Linked DNA regions of Homo sapiens. The protein of the gene in region 1 purifies or fractionates together with the protein of each later gene. This does not show direct contact. Each region holds a gene or a part of one and is shown on either strand. Other genes may lie near its edges.

The links. The genes of interacting proteins can lie anywhere in the genome.
Region 2: the proteins of RGS9 (region 1) and GNAO1 purify together in Homo sapiens (affinity purification with western blotting, with the first as the bait; one study listed by BioGRID). This does not show direct contact.

The regions. Positions count from the first base shown.
Region 1 is NC_000017.11:65,156,857-65,162,199, reverse strand, and holds part of RGS9 (regulator of G-protein signaling 9), read right to left. Parts: intron 3,906-5,343; coding exon 3,855-3,905; intron 1,968-3,854; coding exon 1,861-1,967; intron 1,665-1,860; coding exon 1,613-1,664; intron 1,350-1,612; coding exon 1,291-1,349; intron 1-1,290. UniProt on the Homo sapiens protein: Inhibits signal transduction by increasing the GTPase activity of G protein alpha subunits thereby driving them into their inactive GDP-bound form. Binds to GNAT1. Involved in phototransduction; key element in the recovery phase of visual transduction.
Region 2 is NC_000016.10:56,348,489-56,351,988, reverse strand, and holds part of GNAO1 (guanine nucleotide-binding protein G(o) subunit alpha), read right to left. Parts: intron 606-3,500; coding exon 452-605; intron 1-451. UniProt on the Homo sapiens protein: Guanine nucleotide-binding proteins (G proteins) function as transducers downstream of G protein-coupled receptors (GPCRs) in numerous signaling cascades.

The DNA of each region.
Region 1 (5,343 bases):
GGCTGGTCTTGAACTCCTGGCCTCGAGTGATCCTCCCATCTTGGCCTCCCAAAATGCTGGGATTATAGGCGTGAGCCACCACACCCAACCTGGAAACTCACTATTCAACAACAGAGCATCACAAATTCACAAAATAAACCCTAAGATAAAACAAAGATAAACCGGCCTTTCTGAAAACATGTTTGTAAGAATAAAAACACGTGGCCTAGCATGGTGGCTCACGCCTGTAATCCCAGCACTTCGGGAGGCTGAGGTGGATGGATCACTTGAGCCCAGGAGTTTGAGACTAGCCTGGGCCTCCTGTCTCTACAAAAAATACAAAAATTAGCTGGGTATGGTGGTGTGCTCCTGTAGTCCCAGCTGCTTGGGAGGCTGAGGCTTGAGCCCAGGAGACAGAAGTTGCAGTGAGCCGAGACTGCACCACTATAGGCCAGCCTGGGTGATTGAGCAAGACGTTGTCTCAAATAAATAAATAAATAAATAAATAAATATATAAATAAAAATAAAAACACAGCAAGATTTTAACCCTCCACCCAGAAATTTTGGCCTTTTGAGGGCTAGCATGTGTTCTTTGGGAAACTGGACTCACCCAGCCTAAAACAAAAGTCTATACAGTCCTATTGTTTTCCCATCATAAATTGAAGTTCGGGCCAGGCACGATGGCTCACACCTGTAATCCCAGCACTTTGAGAGGCCGAGGCAGGCAGATCACTTGAGGTCAGAAGTTCGAGACTAGCCTGGCCAACATGGTGAAACCTCATCTCTATTAAAAATACAAAAATTAGCCAGGCGTGGTGGCACACGCCTGTAATCCCAGCTACTCGGGAGGCTAAGGCAGGAGAATCGCTTGAACCTGGAAGGTGGAGGTTGCAGTGAGCTGAGATCATGCCACTGTACTTCAGCCCAGGCAACAGAGCAAGACCTTGTCTCAAAAAAACAAAAAAAACAATTCAAGTTCAAATCTGTTAACCAAGGGTTGTCCATTAGAGTACATATTTATTATGTCACATTGTTTTGGGATGGCAAAAGGAAGTGGGTAGCCACTGTGTGCCCAGTAGCCACTGAGGCAAGGGCTTAAATTACAGCAAGAGAAACTGAAGTTAGACATGAGAAAGAATTTACTTCAGCTAGCTGCTTCTAATTAATAAATGGATGGCTAGCTGGCTGGCTGGATGGATTGCATATGAATGTGGGCGCATATGAATGTAGTGATGTGGGAATGAGGAAAGTACAGCTCAAAACTATCTTCCACTCAATTATAACAACCTCTACTTAAAAGCACCTCCATACCTTTTCATATTCTTCCAAAATCCCTTTCTTTTTGATATTTCGCTTGGCCAGATAGATGGCTGGAAAAGAAAGCAATGACATTTTCCATCATCATCTTTCAAAACCCCATCTGCAGCCTCCCTAAGCCTGAGGCTGCTGTGCTCAGAGTCGGGGAGAGAACGCTCAGCACACCCAGCCCCTTGCCCCTGGGGACATGCCCAGTACAGATGTGGACTGACAGAAAGGTCATGATGACAGCAAGACAAATGTCACCAAAGTGCAGCAAGTAAATAAGCAGCATGTTAAGCACTACCAAAGGCATAGTTGGGGCTGAAGTATTTACCGTAATCGGTATCTTCAGCTGGCCACTGCTGGGTGGGCCAGAAATACGGTGTCTGCAAAAGAAACCAGGGAAACCACGCTTTAAAACTGGATTGTGACTCAATGGACCCCAACCCTGTGACTAAAGAAATCCAACCACCTTGGCCCCCTCCACCATTTCTGAAGTCCTTGATCTGTGAAACTATGAACCCCACCTTTTCAAATGAGATCAACCCCATATGAACAGCCAGGGTCAAGGCCAAGACTCACCTGAAATCTGTAGAGGCTGCCATCAGGCTTGAGAATGAGATTCTTGGGGTCTTGCAGGGGGTAAATGTAGCCATACCTGACAATAAAGTTGCCCAAGTTCTGTGCCTCTGGGAAAAGCAGTTCAGACATGGATGTTAAGAGCAGGGCTGAGACAGGAGCTCATTGCCGGCCCCCACGGCACCCCAAACTCCAGGACAGGTGCCCCTTCCTAACAGCACTGCATCTCATGAGCAGTGAGGACACTGGTTGCTGAACTTGGCTGTGGACAAGCGTGAGCTGGGTTGCACGCTAAAAGGAGGACCTCCCAGGTCTTATCCCCAGGAGTGACAACTCAATAAGTCTAGATGGGAACTAGGAAATCTGGATGTTAACAGAAACCACACGTGGTCTGCTGCAGCGGGTGATGGTTAAGGAAGGCCTAGAGAAGCCTCTATAGGCCCTTTGGGTCTGGGAAAGGTCACAGGACTGGGAAGAAAATGTCTCTGTTGGACCAACAGACACTTTGTCACTCCAAGAATGAGCAAGGAGCATCATGTTTATTGCCAACTTCTATCCCAAGCTCACCTCTGCCTGCATCTCGGGTCCAGACCCTTCCTCTCCTTCCCACTTCACTTTAATTCCCACCCTGCTCCAGTTTATTCGGAAGCACAGCCTTGTTTATCAATTATATCAATTAAAGGACAAACTTCCTTGGTTCTTTCTCCAAAGCATCAATGAAAGCAGATATCCTTCCATCCTCTGGGGAGGATTCCATCCCTCCATTCCTGCAGGACCCCCCAGCCCAAGGACCCAACCCATCTCCCCATCCCATAGCTCAGCCTCCAAGGTGTGGGAAGACTTCCTCCCCAGCCCTCCCTCTCCAGGTCTCGCTCCCTCCATCAAAGACCAAGTCCTAAAGTTGTATGCCTCATTGTACCAACAGCCTATTTTCTAGTGTGAAATCTACTCTCCAGTTTCTTTCTGCTCCAATCCATTTTCTAAATTGCTGCCTTTCACTCGTGTCCGTGTGAAGAGACCACCAAACAGGCTTCGTGTGAGCAACAAGGCTGTTTATTTCACCTGGGTGCAGGCGGGCTGAGTCCGAAAAGAGAGTCAGCGAAGGGAGATAGGGGTGGGGCTGTTTTATAAGATTTGGGTAGGTAAAGGAAAAAGGGGGGGTTGTTCTCTGGCGGGCAGGAGTGGGGGGTCACAAGGTGCTCAGTGGGGGAGCTTTTTGAGCCAGGATGAGCCAGGAGAAGGAATTTCACAAGGTAATGCCCTCAGTTAAGGCAAGGACTGGCCATTTTCACTTCTTTTGTGGTGGAATGTCATCAGTTAAGTCAGGAACAGGCCATGTAAATATCACTTCTTTTGTGATTCTTCAGTTCATTTCAGGCCATCTGGATGTATACGTGCAGGCCACAGGGGATATGATGGCTTAGCTTGGGCTCAGAGGCCTGACACTGCGAGGCACCCTAGCTGAAATATGATTATCAGGCACATTGCCATGCTCAAAAATTGCCTGTGGCTTCCTATTGCCTATCTCCCAGATCTGCAGGTGCTCTTCCACCCCTCTGCCACCCTCCATAGCCATCTGGAGCCATGACTCTCAATCTCCCTTGTCACTCCTCCACTTTCCACTCATTCCATTTCTAAACCATTGCTCTTGCTAGTGTCCCCTTATAGGAAGACCCTCAGAGCTCCTCTTCACCAATTCACAAGCATCACTTCTTTCAAGACCAGCTATACACAGCACCCCCTCCAGGACTTTCTTGACTGAGTCCTCCCCACTTATCCCTGTTATTTATGCTCTAAATATTTTGTACAAAATAACTCTTTCGTCCCCAAATTATCCTGCCTTTGCTTTTGATTCTGGTACTTTTACACACGAAGGTCATGTCTGTCCAATTAAAATGTAAATTTCTCAGAAACACAGGCTAAGTCTCTATTTAGTTTCTCCCATGGTGCTGTACACAAAGCTGTCCCGGATAACTGAGTGCCAGATGAGCTCTCACCCAGACTGGAGATCCAAAGCCGCTGGACGATCCATTGCAGAACATCACTTCCTGAAAAACAAGAGACATTTGCGGTTATTGTCATAGCCTCCTGACACATCCCCGCTCCTCCACGCTGTTGCCTGACTGGTCTCCTTCCCGTTCAGCTGCGATTTCATTCCTCTTCGCTCAGAACCTTCAGAAACCCCCACCTCATCATGCTCAGTCCCAGCTCTGCAGCCTGTAATTCAAGGCTATCCATGATCTGACTCCAGCAGATGTGCAACTTAACACCGCACGCACCCCCAGCCCACACATACATACACACACGCTTCATCTTTACATCTCTTGTTGTATTGATCTTTTACCTGACGATAACTTGTACATGGTCTGTTATTCACTAACTGGATAGTAAATAGGCTAAGTCTAAACACACACACACACACATACACACACACAAAACAGACCCGAGGCAAGCTGTTTGCAGGGCTCTGGACCAAGCTGGGACTCTGGGAGTAAAACAGAGACAGGGATGAGAAGAGGACAGGCTGAGGGCTGGGGCCGGCTCTCCAACTCCCCAAGTTCCCAGGCAGAACTCCGAGGAGTCAGAAACTTCTAAACTTGAACCTGGCCTTCCATGACATTGTGAAGGTACTTTTGTCAGGGTAGGAGGTTGGGACCTATCCTAGTTGATTTATAACTTTAGATGATGGAATGAAGGCTCCATGTGTACTCTCGCCCCAGGCCCTGCAAATCTTAGGGGCTGGCTTGGGAACAACACACAAAAAAACATGAAAAAATGGCATGAAAAACAGCAGGAGAGGCGGGCTCAGAGGCCAGGAGAGAATGTGCACCCGTACACCCGTCCCACCCACCTGCTCCCCTCAAGGATTCAGATTTATCTAAGGGTCAAGGCAAGCCAAGTTCCACCAACAAGCCCAGAGCTGCCGTACGACCCCACAGAAGCTCTGAGCCCCTTCCCTCAGCCTGGGCCCTCTCACCTCACAAGCAGAAGGTACAGCTCGTAGGCACAAGGTAATAGCATCTCAGAAGATAGACAAGGTGCCCTGGAACGAAGCACCGCATCACAGATACCATCGTGCAGATGCCAATGGTCACATTTTCCAGCAATCTTAGCCTGCTTTCCAAAGGCCAAGCTGGAAGCCTGTCTGCATGGAAACAGGCCCACATAACACATCAAAGAAGAGGGCCAGGATTGAGACTCCACTCCCTGTGTTCTTATGTCTGGATAATTGCCAATGATACTTCCCTCCTCGGAGGCGGTGCAGGGACATTTCTTCTTATGACCCATATACACGCTCTCTGGGCGTAATTGCCTGCCTACGACCATGGCTGGGTGTAGACAACCTGTAATTCTTCCCTTCATGCCCACACCCTAGGACACAAATGTCCAGCCATGATCTCTGTCAGTGTCCACATGCACACTGTCATGGCTTTCCATGGTTCTCCCTCTGTTGCTCTTAGCATCATTCACTCCTGGATGGCTGTT
Region 2 (3,500 bases), on another chromosome or scaffold:
GGTGGGGCCAAGAGGCAGTCCAGGCCCTGTTCACAGGCCACGTGTCCACTTTTCGGTTTCATGCAAAGGTGCTGTGGGGCTCTGGGCAGGGGTGAGGGGAGGCCACTGCTGAGATTACAGGAGGCTGTCCTGAGACCTCTTCTAGAGGGTGACCAGGAGGAAGGGGGAAGCCTGTGATCCTGTCCTGCCCCCTGCTCCCCACCACTCCTGAGTCACTTGGTCCTAACACATATATCTTAGGAGGGGCCATTTCCACCACGCTGAGGGCTGTGTCCTGGGAAGCCCAAACCTGGTGGCACAGCACTGTTTTTCTTTTGCGCCCCACCAGTCTCCTGCAATGGGTCCCGCTCGCCAGCTAGCCCCAGCAGTGCTGGCCGAGCAGCCTGTTCTCTGAGCCATGGGTCCCTGTCAGGGGCAGGCTTCCCCCTGCACAGGACTGCCTGGCACCCACCTGTGTATTCAGGAAAGCAGATGGTCAAAGGTGACTTCTTGATCTTCTCGCCAAAGAGATCTTTCTTGTTGAGGAAGAGAATGATGGAGGTATCGATGAAGAACTTGTTGTTACAGATGGAGTCGAAGAGCATGAGAGACTCGTGCATGCGGTTCTGCGGCCGCAGGAAGGGAGGAGAGAGGACAGACAGCGGGAGGGAGACACAGAGACAGGGAAAGAGAAGGAGAGAATTAGGCTTGACAGAGAGGGACTGGGCTACTCGGCAGCTCCTCCGAGAGGCTGCCAGATGGAACCTGAGTCAGTTACACCTCACAGCACATCTCATTCCCTGCTTCCGGAGAACCCGTCATGTCGGGGCCAGAGGCAGAGACTGGACTGGACACCAGCCATGGCTCTCTGGGGAGGCTGAGGACAGGGTGACCCGGGCTCTCCCCACTGCAGAGTTCCCAGCTATGTGAGGGTCTCCCAGCACACGTGTGTGTGGCTGTGTGCATGTGCCTGTGTGTGTGTGCATGCACCTGTTATGTGTGCCTGTGTGTGTTCGTGTGCATGTGTGCCTATGTGTGTGCACCTGTGTGTGCATGCCTGTGTGCATCCATGTGCTTGAGTGTGTGTGCGTGCCTGTGTGTGTGCCTGTGTGTGTGGGCGTTGGGGGAGTCTGGACCGGAGCCGGAGAGCTGGGCTTTGGCCCTTCCTGCCTAGACCTCTCCTCCTGGGCCCATCCTGGGTAGGGGGATGTTCTCTGGGAGTGGTGAGAGACTCCGGGCCCTTCCTATGGTCTCAGGGGAAGGCATGCCAGGTCCTGCCAGCATCCTGGGTGCCACCACTCAGGGGAGAGGCTCCTGGCAGGGCCACCTCCAGGAGCACCTGGGGGACTGGCCACACCTCCTCTGGCTGGGTCCTACTCAGCTGCATCTGACACTGCATGATGTTCTAAGCAAGGCAGATGTGGAGGGCTGCCCTGCACACAGGAGCCTGTTTAGCAAATGGATGAACGTGATGGGCGCCCCACAGATGCCGAACGGGGGCAGCCTCTTGCCCTGGGCAAAAACTCTGCTTTGGGGCGCTGAGCTCATTCACTTGGGCAGAGTCTGTCTCTCAGCAGCACAGAGGGCATCTTTCTCTGTGAACGAATCCATTTCTGCACAGGGAGTGGGAGGAAGGGACAGTTTCCCTTATTTTCCCCAAGAACCCTGTCCTAGCCCTGGGAACTTGCTCACTGTAAACCCAGCTCTCTGGATCTAAAGCCCAGAGGTGAACCAGGCTAAACTCTACCTCTGAAATAAGAAGAGTGACACAAGTAACAAGAAAAAGAAGACAGCTGGTGTAGATGCCACTGGGCATCTACGGGGAGATGACCTCCTCCCCCAGGGGTGAGCACACCGTGGGTGCTGAGGAATTGCTGGTCCCACTGCCACACCGCCCCCCTCTGAGCAGAAGGAGGGCAATGAAGATGAAGTGACCACACCAGTCACTGAGGCCCACACTGTGCCAGCGCTCTCCCTGCCCATGTCACTTAACCTCATCTGGCCTGAGGGGACACCGCGGTGACACAGCTGGGCCAGATCCAGAACTTATGCAATGGGTCTCTCCAGTCCATATCAGCAGGCTGTGGGGCTTTCGAGGAATCGATACTAACAGCAGCATGGCGGGCTCCGTGCGTCTTACGGCCAGTCCTCCCTTCAGTATCTCCCCCGTGCCTACATCATTCTACCATGACCTGTAGAGGCGGCCAGCCCCAGCCCCTGGTTCCTATTAGCTGAAGTTGGTCGGCGGAGGGCAGCGTTCTCAGCTGCCTCTCAGGGGCACCTGGACAGCTGGCATGGCGTTATTCCCCACCCCCCAGGAGCTGTAGTACACGGCACTGCCCTTTCATTCTGCTAAACAGATTCAGTAAACTCATATGATCTCATCACTCTCCTATCCTCAATCAGTAAATTTCATTCTGATTCCCCAGGAGCATTTCCCTGTCATCTGTGTGATCCCTCCGGGGAGGAGCAGGTCTCGCTTGCCCTGAGCCACCTCACTGGGATCTGTTCAGAAAAGGGCAGCCGGAGGCTTCTGGGAGGCCCAGTGAACCTGTGTCCAGGGCCTCGGGCTGTCCACACTCAAGCTCATTGAGCCACATTATGAGGCCAGAGTGGTGAGGCTCTGAGACCCCAAGGATTCCACAGGAACATGCTCCCCACTCCACAGAGCCACCTTGGCCTGCAGCTGCCTAACAGAGAGCTGGAAACCCACAGCCAGAGCCAAGCTCCCTCCTCCACTGCACATCTTCCCAGGCACTGCCAGGAGCAGCCACTAGAGTGACCTGAGCTGGGAGTGGGGACTGTGCCCCCTTGGCCACTGAGCTTAGGTGTGGAGGAGAAATCAAGTCCGGCTCATTTAGGCTCCACAGTTCCACTGGTTAAGGCTGAGCCCCCGCCACAGCCCCTACATCTCAGGGCCACAGAGCACGACTCACACCACACTCGCTCCTCCAGTCAGTACTGCCTGGCATCTGTGTGCAGGGCTCTCTGCTGGGCTGCCCCGAGGATGTAAGAATGACCACATCAGGCTCCTGCTCTCCGAGAGCTCAGAGTCCAGCTGGAGAAAGATGATCACAGTCTGTGGTCCCAGGAGTGGCAGTGCAGGGGAGGACTTGGGGAGCAGAGGACAGGCATAACCAAACCTGGTTTTATGGGGAGAGGGCCTTGGAGGGAGCCCCAAAAGGCGGCTGATCCTGGAGACTCGGGGAGGGCAGTGAGGAGGGGAGATCCTGCAGGGCAGGGGAGGCGCCGGCACTGAGACCCCTGCCAGCCCCCCAGGCCTGACTGCCCTCCCTCGGCACGCTGCCTGGAACCCATTGCCAAGGAGCTGAGAGCACAGCTCATCCTTACAAGCTCCCCAGAGGAAGCAGACGCCGGGGTACATTCAAAGAAGAGATACCACCATTTGAGAAAAGAGAAAGAAGTCAGAGATCATAGATGGCTGACAGCCAACCCCCTAGACCTCCACCTGCCCCAGGCTGCAGTGGAGGCCCAGGAGCAGCAGGAAGCAGTGCCAGCGC